Regions from separate parts of the Homo sapiens genome. Here all the other regions are linked to region 1. Evidence: fine-mapped expression QTL. A gene starts in region 1. Each other region holds a variant in brackets. All regions are shown on one strand. Distances are from middle to middle.

Region 1 (5,234 bases):
AAAATTAATTCCACATATATTTGATATTCTAAAGAACTATTTTATATGAGTTCAGTTAATATTTTTTTAACAGATATTGAAATCAGAACAAATCCAGGTTGACAAACTTGCCCAAGATGTCATTGGTAGTGAGCTGCTAAAATGTTTTAATATATGTTTACTCAATCATGAATGTTTGCATTTTAAATATTTGCCTCTTTAGCAGGGACTAAATGTAGCAAATATTAAAGTGATAACTTTTAATTTTCTCTTTTTCATTTTATTCCCCTGAAACCTTCATCTTTCTGAAGCTTACTGCCCCAAGGCAGGGGAGAATGGCTATTGGTTCTCTTTTGTAGTCTCTCACATTTATCACATCAAGGGTTAATTCTGGAGGGATGAAGTTAAGTTTTCTCCTTATAAAGGGAGAAAACACCCCTTCTGCTTGTGACAACTAGGGCATGAGGCTTGTTGTTCTTTGTTCAGTGGCAGACACAACGTAAAAGGATGGTTTCAATGGCAGCATGGTCCAATGTAGTGTAGGAATGCATCCAGAACCACAAATTGCTTAATGTTTCTGACCCAATACACGCTACTCGCTTTATCCATTCAGTCTGCTCTCAGAAAGCAAAATAGCCTCCACATATTCCCATATGCTTTCTGGATGGAGAGCAGCTGGAAGTAGTAGAGCCCACTGCTGTAGATGAGGTAGAGGGATAGTGGGGGAGAAATGTACCCCTACCGGTTGCCAGGAAATTGTGCAAGGAAAAAGCCTGAGGAAAGCAGGAGACTTACTGGATTGAACTCCTTATTTCTGCTTTCTGCGCTTTGGCCTGAAGAAGGCTATTTGTGTTAGATGGATAAGGGTAACACACAGAGCAGAGGGACCCCTTATCCCTTTCCCGATTTGGGACTCTGAAGACTTCCCTGTATCAGTCTGGAATACAGGAGACACGATAGGCATCTAGAAGTGCAGTGTGGGTATGCAAGAGAGAGGTAGAAGTTTAACCTCTCCAGGACACCTCAGTGCCTATGTGCTATTATTGGACCCAAGAGTTCTCACCATTCTCTGGAAGAAATGTAAAGGCAGCTGGGTTAAGGCCAGGGACCTTAAATGGCCTGGACTGCAAAGGGGCAAGGTGACCCTGCATCACAGGCTGTGTTGAAACAATAGCCATAGTATTTGAGGCAGGATGCAAAGGTAGGAGTTCTATGGGATATGAAACAGCTGAAGTGAGACAGTCAGTTAGAGAGGACTGTTGGGTCCTGAACACACAAGAGAAACCAGATGGCTAAACTTCAACAGTGCATGCCAGCAAGTAAGGAGAAGTCAGACTGACAGTAGCCAAGAAGGACGGAGAACTTTGAGACCAAGGACTCTGACAGTTTTCTCTATTAGGAGTTAATGGAGACCACAGTTCTCTAGACACTATAGAGGAGAGGAACTGGGGAGAGGTGGAAAAGAAGTCTTACAATTATTGAGTTGTACCAACTTACAACTGGATAGGGTTAAAATTATTTTCCCTGCTTTGGTCCCCCACTGGGGGCTGTTGGTGAAGACTTGATACATGATTGAAAAATAAAGGAGCTATACTTTCTGTATATATATATATGGCCTACAATACATGTTAAGTTGCACTTCACTATATATTTCGAATATCTCTATATTCAGTGCCTTCCATCCAAAAGAACTGTTCTGTGAAGTTGGGATCTAGTGTTTTATTTAATCATGCTTCCTAGTGACTAATCGTATTTATGACTCTGATTGGCCCAGTGTAGAAAAAATGATTTCAAGAATAGAGGATAAATGAAAGACAAACAAGGGATTAACTGGAATAATTTCTTATATTTGGAAGGTATTGTAATGAGTGGAAAGGTGGCATTTACAAAGGAAGGCAAAGCGAAGACACAAGGGAGAGACTGAAACGCACTCTGGAGGAAGGGGTCTTGAGTGAGACTTACGGTTCTGTAGAGTTTGAGTCACTGGCAGAAAGCAGGATAAGAAGTAGCACAAGACATAAATGAAGAAGTCTGTCTTTCCGCATTGTGAGGGATAAATCTCAGGGTTGTGTCCAACTCTCTGCCCTCAGCCTCGCCCTGGAGACCAGCTGAGTTTACCAGGCTTTATGTGGCCACTATGTACAAACAAGCCCCACCCCAAGGCCTCTGAATAGAGTTCAGAATTGAGCACAGATTCCCTAAAAGGGTCATTACTCTCAGTGGTTGCCTCATTTTTCTCAAGGCTAAATTCTGATAGGTACTGAGGCATGTCTGGAAGATAAAATTTGTATTCCATTTAGAATGAGCTTTGACAGCAAACCTCCTGATAAGGAACCTTCAACCTACCTTTCTCCATCTCTTTCAAAATCCTTACAAGCAGGTGACAAAGGATGCTGACAAAGAATGTCAGGGACATGTTACCATGATAGTAGCTCATGCATTGCAGATTCATTTCTGGGACTGAGTGAGTTATAACTATAGACTTTAGGGTTTTTGGGTTTTCTTTTTTAGCAGTTGATTGAGTACATGGTCCTGGAAGAAAGTGATATAAAATAAGGATTTCAAGAGTAGAGGATCAATGAAAGATAAAAGAGATAAAAGATCAAAGAGATTTTAGAAAGGAGTTATCAAAGATCACACTTGTCTATTTCACAGCATTGACCTGATCAGATTCTTAGTTGATCCTATCTGTCCTTGTTACTGTCTGAGCACTCTAACGTTTGAGTCCCTTAAACCATGTCATTGACTTTATCTGAGATTTTTTTTTTGAGCCATACTGTGTGCTAAGTGCTATTCTGGTGATGAAAATACAATATTGAACAGGATATTCAGTATCCATGCTCTCATAGAACTTGTAGTACAATGATGATCACATATAAACCACCAGCAGATTTAATGCCATCCTTAGACTGCAGACATTGGTGTCTGTTTACATACTGTATTGCTTGAAACTTTTTAAATCAACTTTCTTTCTCTTTCTCCATATTTCAGCCTAATCATCCCTTCTTTGGAGAGCAAATTCCTGGCCACACTGCTGAAAGTGGATTCCTTCCTATTAGTTTTTATTTCACATCTTTGTTTCTTTTGTCACATTATCATAGAATGAAATAATTTCTTTTAAATTATGAAATGTTATATATATATATACTCACAAATATAGAGAGCAAGATAAAAGACACTCGTACCTTACATGCACCCAACTTTAATAAAATTAAACACTTGCCAAGTTTGTTTAAGGTCATTTCTTCTTAAGAAATGAAAGATGGCAATGGTAGTGCTCTTTTAAAATTTGTCTAGAAGCTTTTCCAGTTTTTACCAGATCCACCAACCCAAAAAAAGAAATAAATCAAGACAAATATGGTTGGAGTTTCCTTTGTAATTCTCTCCAATCTCATTTCCCTTCCAATGTTGTGGGATTAGGAAGTTGATATGTATTCTTCAAGATGTGTTTATGTTTTTAATCCATATTTATGTAAATAATATATAGCATAATTTTGTGTTTTGTATTTTATATGTATAAGTGGTATGCACATATTGTAAAATATGTCATCACTATTATGGTTTTAAGACTTATTAGCATTGATAATGAGGATAAAATTTATTAATTTTAATGACCATCTATACGACATTCTATTGTATGAATGTGGCCGAACCTGTTACTCTATTCCCCTAGTGCTGAATTTTGGATTCTTCATAGTTTTCAACATTACAAATAATACTGCTACAAATACGGTATGTCTACTTAAGCATATTTGCAAGACTTTCTCTAGGGTATATAGCAGAGATTGGGTTATAGGCTATATATGTATGTACATCTTGAAATCTATCAGATTGGTAAATTGCTCTTCAGAGTATTACATGGATTTGAATACCCATCTGCAACAGTGGATATTTTCAGTTTATTATATATTTACCATCGTTTTACTCTGCTAGGCATTTTACTTTTTATCAATCTGATGAGTGAAGCAGTATCTTGCCTTAATTTTCATTATTAATGACTTTACACATCTTTTCATATGTTTATGGACCATTTGAATTCTACCATCAGTTTGATATCTCAACACAATATGTAAAGGGTCTATCAGGAACATCTCCTTGCCCCAGTTTCATGAGCCTTGGACTCTAGACGCTGCAATTTTATTTACTAAAGGCTTTAAAATGTGCTTCTAAATCTCTCAGCCAAATATTCTGGAGCTGTTAAATACCCTAAGGGGAAAGTGCCCTTAAACACAGAATTGCCCCTTTGGGTTGCTATGTTGCTTCTGAACTTTGGATTCATAATTCTTCACAGTCTTTGCTTTTCAATACCTCCAGTGAATATATATATAACCAACCATTCCTAATTTAAGTGGGAAGTTTGGTCTCAATTACCTTGTATACCATTACTGGAAAGGAAAGTCTTAAGTGTGTATTTTTATTTTATATAAAGAGTATTGGAAAAAGACCTTGCCTGTTTCTTATTCTTTTTAGTTATTGCTAGTTTTAAAACATCCTCCCATGTTTATATGTTTATATGTATGTATTTTATTAATTGCATTTTATTACAGTATAGCCCTCTTTGGTGATCATCCAAGAGGTTTAATGTTTCCACTCTCCTAATGATAAAAACAGGATTGTCTCTATTGTCCTGCCATGAGGAAATAATGCTTTGATAAATATCTTTTTACATATACCCTTTGAGACAGGTAAATCCTCTTGCAAGACGCATACACAGGAGTGAGATTGTTGTATGAGAGGCATGTACTTAAGTGACTAAATAGTGACAAATAACTCTCCAGAATGGTTGCATCACACCACAATTCTACCAGTAGTGCATGAGGATTTTCGTATCCCCATATTGCCACCAATACTCTAGCTTTTACATTTTTCTTCCAGTATTCCTTTAAATAAGCTTTCTGCTCATTTCCCTCTTTTCTCCTTCTAGGACTCCCATAATATGTGTATTTGCATGCTTGATGGTATTCCATAGGTCCCTTATACTTTCTTCACTCTTCTTTAATTTTTTTTCTTTTTTCACCTTTAATTAACTATTTACATGACCTGTCTTCAAGTTACTAATTCTTTCTTTTGTGTGACTGTGTTTGCTGTTGAAGCTCTCCATTAAAATATTCAGTTCTGTTCTTATATAATTTTTGTGTGTTTTTTCTTAATGGTTTCTATTTCTTTATTAAACTTCTCATTTTGTTCATACATTGTTTTTCTAATTTTATTTAGTTGTCTATCTGTGTTTTCTTGCATCTTACTGAGCATCTTTA
Region 2 (5,234 bases), 47 kb before region 1:
CTGCATCACCGTGGGACTCCTCAGAGTCCACACCAGCAAGAAGACTCTCAACTAGATGCGGCCCCTAGACTTTTGACTTATCAGCCTTCATAGCTATAAGAAATAAATTTCTTTTCTTTATAAATTACCTAGTTTCAGGTATTCTGTTATAAGCAACAGAAAATGGACTAAGACAGGTAATCTATGTGCACGTTCTGAACTCATAGTTGAAACTCAGAATAGATTTTCTTTCTTACCAAGTGTTGCCCTGGTTCCTGCCATATCGTTCCCCAAAGGTGCTGTAGGAGCCATCTTGGTGTTTGTAGTTCAGCTGTCTCTGGTAACCTGAAATGGAAGGCTTCAGATTGTTCATGAAGCATTAAAGAAAGGCAGGCCATCCATATGTTTAGGCTCATGCATCCAGGCGCCATGGACATTTTATGACCTTCTGTGATCTGCCATAGTTTTGTGAATGTTATGGATAGATCAAACACAACATCCTATTAGAGTGTGGGAAGATTGTTGTTTTCATAAAAATTATCATCATGGGTTAATATTTGATGATATAACTGAAGCTTAATTGGGAAAAGTTTCATTAGAGTAACAAAGTAAATTTTTCTCTGTCTCACTTACCAGTGATGAGATAGCCAACGGCCTTGGCCTTGATCTCCTGCGTCAGCTGCTGGGTTTCATTCAGATAGTTCAAGACATAGATGTTAGGAGCAAATAGGACCATGTTCTGTTCTCCACAGCCATATGGCATCTGGAGGAGATTTTGTATATTTTGCATAGCAGAACCTAATATGTCACCTGGGGAATGTGAAAGATTAGATGTCAGAATAATTTCAGTTCATAAATAGCCAACATTATTAACAAAAATGGCCTTTATATTCAGAGTCTATCATTTAGGTAAGAGAAAAGTTATATACACAGAGTGTGACTTCCAGAATCCTAATAAGAATAGCAGCTATCGCCTGTAATCCCAGCACTTTGGGAGGCCGAGGCGGGCGGATCATGAGGTCAGGATATCGAGACCATCCTGGTGAACACGGTGAAACCCCGTCTCTACTAAAAATACAAAAAAATTAGCCGGGCGTGGTGGCGGGCGCCTGTAGTCCCAGCTACTCGGGAGGCTGAGGCAGGAGAATGGCGTGAACCCAGGAGGCGGAGCTTGCAGTGAGCCGAGATCACGTCACTGTACTCCAGCCTGGGCGACAGAGCGAGACTCCATCTCAAAAAAATAAAAAAGAATAGCAGCTATCAAGAACTTGATAATTCAAATACAAATACGTAGATAAGATGTACAGTGGCAACTCTTTTGGCCCAGGTTTACTAAATGGAAGGTGACTCACCCAGAACTGAGAAAGAAGCTCTGGCAGATTCTTTGACCACATTTGATGGGAGCTTCAAGGACAACTGCTCAGACACATTAGCACCTTTAGAAACAGACAGCCCATGTTAAAGGAGGACATCTATGATTACAATATAATTTAGTGATTATAATGTAGTGAGAGCTTCAGAGCCACACTCCCTGGATATGGTACTGGCCCTGCTTTGTGACCTTGGGTAAATTGTGATGATTTGAGGAAAAAACACATGTAAAACATTCAGAACAGTATCTGCAACATATTCAATTTCAACGAATGTGAGCAATTGTTATTATTGCAGTTATTTTATTATTAGAGTTAGCAGTAATATTATTATATCTCCTTGTGGAACTCTGGGTGCAAGGAATAAGAATTTGACTTAATGATGAGACTACCTTTGATAGTCTAATTGCTTTTGGCACTGTGTGACTTCCAGAGTCCTTCCTCTTCTCATTTAACTATATTTTTGCATGGCTGTGCTCAGTAGCTTTCTAAAAGAAGCCTAAGACTTAGTGGGGGAACTATCGCTCTCCACTTTTGTAGCAATATTAAGACTTATAACCATGATAATACAAGTTATTTTACTGCCTCCCTTACACTATATTTGAATGGATTCCCATGTTTATAAATAGATAACATGAATATACCTTAAATTAGTCCTTCTCAAATGACAAATACAGTGCTGTATACACTGTGGACATAGAACTAATAATGTGGCGGTTCTGTATAAAAGCTACAACTACTTCTTAATGATATGATGAACTTAAATGTAAATTATTTTCTACACGGAAAACACACATTTTTAGTGAGATGGGTAGGAAATGCTATATGTTTTGTCAGCAGCTGTTTTAGAGACTATCTCTTGGGATTCAAACTTATCATGACCCTGCTGTCTTTAGTTTTTGTTGTTGTTGTTGTTTGCTTGTTTGTTTTTTTAAGAGTCTCACTCTGTTGCCCAGGTTGGAGCGCAGTGGTGTGATTTCGGCTCACTGCAACCTCCCCCTGCCCGGCTCAAGCGATTCTCGTGCCCCAGCCCCCCATGTAGCTGGGACTACAGG[C/T]GCCCGCCACCAGGCCTGGCTAATTTTTGTTTTTTTCGTAGAGACAGGGTTTCACCATGTTGGCCAGGCTGTTCTCAAACCCCTGACCTCAAGTCATCCTCCCGCCTCAGCCTCCCAAAATGCTGGGATTACAAATGTGAGCCACCACACCCGGCTAACCCTGCTCTCTTTCTACCTCATCCTGGGACACTCTAAGCTTCTGCAGCTGGGCTTGTCAGTGAGCAGCCACTGGGCTATCCAGGTAAAAGGGCTACGTATGAACCAAGAAAGCCCAGGTATTAGTCCTGTCTGTACCACCTGAGTCACATTAACTTGCTCTCTTGGGCTCAATGTCTTCATCTGTAAAACATACATAAAGAAATATTTAGTATTATGCTGACTTTCATGGAACACTCTGAAAACTGGGAGATAAAATGAATGTGCATTGTAACTTGAGGTTTATACCCCTTTGTGGTTTTGATCTCACTATGATTATGAAGATGGACTCTTACCTGAGGCACAGGTCATAGAACTGAAAGTCTTTTCTTGCTCAATACCTTCAGCCTTGGATGAAAGGAAAGAAAAGGAGAAAAGATAGAAACATCCTGGTGACAAGAGAACCACATGGATTCCTTTCTTTGATGGGTAGGGTTTACACGAATGATGTTTACCATCCTACTCTTTTTTTCCCAACTTTTGTTTTAAGTTCAAGGGGACATGTGCAGGAGGTGCAGGTTTGTTACATAGGTAAATGTGTGCCATGGTGGTTTGCTGCACAGATCATCCCATCACCTAGGGATTAAGCCCAGCATCCACTAGCTATTCTTCCTGATGCTCTCCCTTCTGTCACTCCCACTCTCAGACAGGCCCCATATATGTTGCTCGCCTCCATGTGTCTATGTGTTTGCATCATTCAGCTCCCACTTATAAGTGAGAACATAACATCCTACTTGTTATTGAATTATTACAAATCCATAAAACATTGAAGAACCAGGGAGGGTGGTAGAGAGAAAATGGGAAGAGATAATAAGGGCAGTAAATCAAAGCTAATGGGTATGAGAGATATGTGAATCTTAGGAGAGAGGTGGAGATCAAGAAATTGCGCTCAATGTAATCCCAGCACTTTGGGAGGCCGAGAAGGGAGGATCACGAGGTCAGGAGATTGAGACCATCCTGGCTAACATGGTGAAACCCCGTCTCTACTAAAAATACAAAAAAAAAAAAAAAAAAATTAGCCAGGCGCCTGTAGTCCCAGCTACTCGGGAGGCTGAGGCAGGAGAATGGCATGAACCCGGGAGGCAGAGCTTTCAGTGAGCCGAGATCGCAACACTGCACTTCAGCCTGTGCAACAGAGCAAAACTCCGTCTCAAAAAAAAAAAAGGAAATTGCACTCAAATAATTTGTGAAAAAAAATTTACAATAGCTGGCAATGTTGTCTGCTGCAATGCTTTTAGGGCAGGAAATTCCATTAGTCTTACAGGATGTATTGTGTGAGCATGATATTAATGGTTCTTTGTTGTCTCAAGAGTGACCGCCCGGTGTTGCATTCTTACAGTTGTTAGGGACTCCCAAAAATATGTTACCTCCACCAACAGGGTTTTGATGACTGTGTCTTTTCTTTTAATCTCAGGGACCTCAACAACCTCATTTCCACAGAGTTCTAAGGACTGCATTGCCTCTGCACTCACTGAGAAGTTCACATTCCCTAAAACAAGGAATATTGAAAACATGAGTATCCACTTTGATAGTCCAATCACCTTTAAGGGCTGCACCTTAAACTTATAGTTGTCCAGAATAGAAAATAAGGCTAAAAAAAAAGAAACCCACAAGGTTAATGTATACTAAGTAGCCAATGTCCAAGATAGTGATTCTGGGGACTAGCTTGGGTGAGAACAGTGGGAGGAGGTCATAGTGGATAGAAATAGGAAAAAAAACTAACTTTATAGAATTATATCTATGGCAAATAAAAGAGAGAATATGATGAAAAAAGTACTCAGACAGCCACCGTCCTTGTTGATTGATAGGCCCTTTTGGGTACTGTCACTCACCCAGAGTTTTAGGAGTCACTGTCCAAGACAAGGTTTGTCTCTCATTTCCACAGATACAATAGGATTCTTCTCCCTTTGTATTTTGGGAAGCTAGGAAGGCTGGAGAGGCTTTCAGCTGCACACTGACCTATCACCCCATGTGAGGCAGAGACAGAAATGATCAGAATATGGAACGACACGAACACATAGAATTGGGGCCAAGTGTGAGATGCTGCAGTAAATTGGGATTTGTAAGAAAAATGTATGTCACATAGATTCATCCATGCTTTAAGAAGCATGGCAATGGCAATGATACAAATCAAGATTGGTTGTGTATTAGGAGGATTTGGCATTTGCCTTAGGGTAGCTTGTGGACGTGCAGGCTTGGCAGTGGCAGAGGAAAGGGAAAAGCAGTGATTGTATATTGCCCTAGGGAATACTATCTGCTGCTATGTAGATTTTCATAGTTTCTTCCTTCCTTTCTTCTCCTATTTCTTACAACATATATTACATGTCTAATCCATACAAGACATAAAACACTGGGAATGGTAGATGAGAGGCTCCCGATCTTGAGGATATTGTGTCACAAGAAAGATGATCTATATACAACCACTATTACATAATTTACAAAGAGATAAGTGCTATAAGATAAATTAAAATTATATATTTTGGAGATTTCAAGATGACGGGTTGGAGAATGACTCTCGTGGAACTGAGAAAGCTGAGTTGTGTGTCAGCTTCAAGAATGTTCCTGGCATATAACCTAACTTGCAGCAAAGAATTCTGCAAGCGCTAAGAAATAGAAAAGCAAGGTGTGGCTTAGA
Region 3 (5,234 bases), 26 kb before region 1:
GCCCGCATCGCCAAGGCAATCCTAAGCCAAAAGAACAAAGCTGGAGGCATCACACTACCTGACTTCAAACTATACTATAAGGCTACAGTAACCAAAAGAGCATGGTACTGGTACCAAAACAGAGATATAGATCAATGGAACAGAACAGAGCCCTCAGAAATAACTCTGCATATCTACAACTATCTGATCTTCGACAAACCTGAGAAAAACAAGCAATGGGGAAAGGATTCCCTATTTAATAAATGGTGCTGGGAAAACTGGCTAGCCATATGTAGAAAGCTGAAACTGGATCCCTTCCTTACACATTATACAAAAATCAATTCAAGATGGATTAAAGACTTAAATGTTAGACCTAAAACCATAAAAACCCTAGAAGAAAACCTAGGCATCACCATTCAGGACATAGGCATGGGTAAGGACTTCATGTCCAAAACACCAAAAGCAATGGCAACAAAAGACAAAATTGACAAATGGGATCTAATTAAACTAAAGAGCTTCTGCACAGCAAAAGAAACTACCATCAGAGTGAACAGGCAACCTACAAAATGGGAGAAAATTTTCGCAACCTACTCATCTGACAAAGGGCTAATAGAGGCTTCTTGATCTGAGCCTCTGGAATGGCCCTTCCTGGTCCCCAAGGCCACTGGAAACTCACTGAGGACACAGAGAGCTCAGCCTCAGGCTTCATGAGCAGCACACTTTGGTCCACAGCACGAAGGGCACAGAGGGACTGCGGAGCAGCTGCTACTTGCAGGTGGGCATGTGAGGCTGGGGGACTTTGTGCTGGGCTGAAGCTCAAATCCACCTGTGGGAAATGAAGGAAACGTCAACCAGTGTTTTCCCTACTTCTGTGATCTTGCAGTCACCTGCATTTCCTAAGCCACCCTTATATTCAGTTCATATGACTATGTTGGTAATGTCAGTCAGAAACCTATTTTTACAACTTTCCTTCACTTTAAAAATAGAAAATAATTTGTAAATCACTTATTACCACTTTCACAGATCCCAACAACTCTAGAGACATAAATAGTTAGATCTGTTAAAAGGTACATGACTTCCCTTATGTTTGCAAGTATTAATTTTATAACAAGCTTACCTACTCCAGTGATCAAAAGTGATTCTATTTAGACAGGATCCAAATTATCTAATGCTTTGGCGACACATTAATTTACTCACTCTTTTAAACATGACTATTACATAAGTGGGGAATCTTAACAAAATATAGCTTCTCGGTAGCTTAGTCTTGTCCTAAGGAGATAACTGAGGCAGAATAAGGATAGATACCTTGTTAGATTTTTAGATGGCCATCTTTATCTCTGACACATGATAAGGTAATTCTAGGTGTTTACACTTATTCTTCAGGTTTTGGGAACTTTTGAGTCTTAGCATTTTACATACTCACACAACTGAATCAGCAGAGAAGAGCATCATGAACACAAAACTGATTGTATTTTATTTGGTAGCAGCTTTGTGTAATTGAAAAAGTGCTGTACTAGATCCCTAGAAATTTGGGTCTGCCATAAACTTGTTGGGAACTGTTGGGCAACTCATTTTACTTTTCTGGACTTAGTTTTCTCTGGGGTAAAATAGATGGCACCTACAGTATCATTTATTTGTGTTCTTTTAATTTTATGTTAAATCGCTCACCTTGTTGGCTAGACAGTTTTCAATCTCAAATTTTTCAGAGTCTCCAACAACTTCTCCATCTGGTAAAATGGCAAAGATGAACATTCGTGCAATGGGGGCAACGTCTGACTCCACAGGGAAGGATAAGGCAAAACTGCCTTTCACTGGAACATGGAGAGAGTGAGACAAAATGGTCATAAGTGAGACAAAAAGGTCATAAAAATAGTGTCATAAGGACACTATTGCTTGGTCTTATCCACTTGAGAACTGCGTCCATTCATTCTAATGGCTTAGTCTCTCTATGTGCCATTAGTTATTTGGTGAAATTAGTAGGCCAATGTCTCCCTTCAGAACTTTAATTATAGCAGAAGTTAACAAAGTTCCTTTCACTCACATCTTTTTTATTTGATATTCCACTTAACTGTTGCCTAAATCAATTAAATATCAGTAGCTCCAAATTTTCTGCATATATATGTGACAACTATTTTATTTACATTTCAGACTAGAGGTGATTCTCAATTTAAATATAGAGCTATAATTTGTAAGATATAATAAGTTTATTTTGTCATATATGACTTTTAAAAAGCTCTGTATGTAAAAAAAAGTTCATACTAATTGAACTTCCTAAAAGAATATTTAATTCTTGGAGTTTTCATTGCAGTGTTAAACTCTTATAAGTACATTGGTATATTTCTACTGGAAGCATTAAATGGTACCAGATAACACTTCAGAAAATACTTTACATTTTAAAGCAGGGTGAAGGGCCACCAGGTAGCTACAAAAGGGCAA[C/G]AACAAAAGTTCCATTTTCTGAATGGTCCACTGGGGACTTGAGTAGATGGCCCACATTTAGTTGAATAACGGTAATTATAAAACCACGAGAGACTTAATGACTGAAAAGTTTCTGAGATGCCTGTACATAAAGGACAGATACTCTCTGGTATTATTTCCATGTCTTCCTTTTCTCTACATCCCTCCTGTCCCAGATTCCCAGCTATATGGCTTTAAATTCCTGTGCTTCCAAGTTCTTTTCCAGTAACATATTCTTGGTGCAGTTAGACAATACATAGGATAACAGAGTCTCTCGACATTGTTGAAACTCAAAATAATGTAGGACAAGGACAATTAGAATTGTAGAAGAACTATAATTGATTTTATTTTTTTCTTAACCATATGTATTAAAAATTAAGTCTAATACCCTTAGGAATATTTTACAAAGTATAATATCAGGATGAACAAGGCTAGCTATCTAACACACAACATGAAGACTGTAGTTAATAAAATGGTACTATATTTTAGATTTTTGTCAAATGAGTGCATTTTAGCTGTTCTTGCCACACATACACAAATGAGTAAGTAGGTGAGATGATGGCCATGTTACTTTCCATCACTATAGTAGTCATTTTATTATCTATATGTGTCCCATAACGTTATGTTGTACACCTTAAATAAATGTAATTTTTTTTTGAGACAGGGTCTTGCTCTGTTGCCCAGGCTGAAATGCAGTGGTGCAATCATAGCTCACTGCAGCCTCGAATTTCTGGGCTCAAGTGATTGTACTGCCTCAGCCTCCCCAGTAGCTGGGACTATAGGTGCACAACACCACGTTTGGCTAATTTTTTATATATTTTTGTAGAGATAGGATCTTGCTATGTAGCCCAGGCTGGTCCCAAACTCCTCGGTTCAAGCAATCCTCCCAAAATGCTGCAATTACAGGCAGCAGCCAATGTGCCCGGCCAAAATTTACTTTTTTAAAATGATTATATTAAAGCCTGAGATTGGTGGCACTCAATTAAAAATTGTTATAACTCTACGTAGAATGTGGAATTTTTCCAACTTCATGCAAATTTGACTTTAGCTTAACATTACTTATTTTATATCACTATGTGTTTATACTGCAAAGCTCTTAAGTTTGGGAAGAAAGGAAGCTTAAAATATCCTTAAGGCAGTGTTATGCCATTCATATTTGTGTTCAGTTGGACAGATCAAGTTTTAGCTCAGACCTCAAAAAGGAAATAAGCTCCCCTTCTAAAAGGAAGGAAGCCCTTTTATCACTGTCTTGAGTTCAACAAGGAAAGTGGGGTAGATTGAAATGTCATAAAACCAGAAAAAAAATTATGGTGACTTTATGGCAAAGAATAGTGGTAGGAAATTAAAGCTTTTAATAATAAAATTTGCCAACACATGTGTGTGTGTGCACCCTGCCTTGCCACTGCTGGCAGCGTGAGTGTCCTCCATCACCCCTACTCCTACCACACAGCCACTGACATCAGAGCATTGGCAGGCACTAAGCTCGCCAACCCCACCCCTGCCAGCACCCTGCCCCTGCAATGGAGCTGCCAGTGCAAAACTAGGCACAAAACACACAAACCCACCCCTAGCCATGTACAGACACTGCCACCAGTATGAATGCACACAAAAGGTTCATACAGTCCTGCACCCACCAGTGCCCCACCCCCATGCTAACACCACCGTCAGTGCAAATGCATGCACAGTTGCTAGTGGGGATCCCCCAATCCCCTGAGTCATACTGCCATGATCATTGCTATGAATGCCTGCACAAAGGCCAGCAACCTGGCACCTGCTAGCACCCTGCCACAGCTGATGAGCGTGTACCCCACCACGCTGCCACTGCCATGCTGCTGGTACATGTGAATGAGGAGGGATCCCACTGCTACCATCCTGCAAAGTGCTTTGGCTGACATCACCCATGGAAGTGTTGTGACCAGTGGTCTGGGAGCACCTTGGTCCCTTCAGTGCAACATGTTCTTAACCTCAAGGAGCCAGAGAACAAAGCTGGAGCCAGATACCAGTTCCCCAGAGTTACAGCATGCAATCCAGGAGTCCTGAACTGAGCCTTGCTCCTCCCTGCCTCCACTGCCCCCAAATCTTCTGGTAACAAAGTCAGTTGACTGAACTCACCTTATACCACAATCAAACCTCCAAGGTCATCGAATAGGATAAAAGGAAAAAATCAAAACAACAGCAGTTTCTAAGAGTGAAGGAACATCAGCCCGCAAAGATGAGAAAGAACCAGCACAAGAACTCTGACAACTCAAAGAGCCAGAGCATCTTCTTTCCTCCAAACAATCACACCAGTTCTCCAGCAAGGGTTCTTAATAGGGCTGAGATGGCTGAAATGACAGAAATAGAATTCAGACTATGGATAGGAATGAAGGTCATTGAGATTCAGGAGAATGTTGAAACCTAATCTAAGGAAGCTAAGAATCACAATAAAATGATGCAGAAGCTGACAGACAAAATAGCCAGTATAGAAAAGAACATAACCAACCTGACAGAGCTGAACAACAGTCTACAAGAATTTCGTAATGCAATCACAAGTATTAACAGCAGAACAGACCAAGCTGAGGAAAGAATCTCAGAGCCACAAAATTGACTTTCTGCAATACAACAGTCAGACAAGAATAAAGAAAGAAGAATGAAAAGGAATAAACAAAACCTCTGAGAAATCTGGGATTATTTATGTAAAAAGACTGAATCTACAACTCCTTGATATCCTTGAAAGAGATGAGCATAATGAAAGCAACTTGGAAAACATATTTTAGGATATCATCCATGAGAACTTCCCCTCCTAGCTAGAGAGGCCAAAT

The links. PIP is the estimated chance that this variant, and not a neighbour inherited with it, causes the effect. A credible set is the group of variants that fine-mapping cannot tell apart.
Region 2: its variant is the best candidate, but not a certain one, in a credible set for the expression of PZP in testis (GTEx, PIP 0.60).
Region 3: its variant is the best candidate, but not a certain one, in a credible set for the expression of PZP in nasal epithelium (TOPMed, PIP 0.83).

What each region holds. Positions count from the first base shown.
Region 1 is chr12:9,206,318-9,211,551 of GRCh38, forward strand. PZP (PZP alpha-2-macroglobulin like) reads right to left here and starts at 2,078. Exons shown (of 36, transcript NM_002864.3): 1 at 1,942-2,078. The coding sequence starts at 2,024. It also overlaps a transcript of KLRG1 not described here.
Region 2 is chr12:9,159,702-9,164,935 of GRCh38, forward strand. PZP (PZP alpha-2-macroglobulin like) reads right to left here. Exons shown (of 36, transcript NM_002864.3): 20 at 4,432-4,558; 21 at 3,967-4,088; 22 at 2,896-2,947; 23 at 1,332-1,415; 24 at 613-789; 25 at 237-324. It also overlaps a transcript of KLRG1 not described here. Among named protein-coding and RNA genes, the nearest start is that of PZP, 46 kb to the right of the region's middle. The variant C/T (reference allele first, on the strand shown) is at 2,405.
Region 3 is chr12:9,180,328-9,185,561 of GRCh38, forward strand. It overlaps PZP (PZP alpha-2-macroglobulin like), which reads right to left. Exons shown (of 36, transcript NM_002864.3): 14 at 1,648-1,790; 15 at 656-805. It also overlaps a transcript of KLRG1 not described here. Among named protein-coding and RNA genes, the nearest start is that of PZP, 25 kb to the right of the region's middle. The variant C/G (reference allele first, on the strand shown) is at 2,416.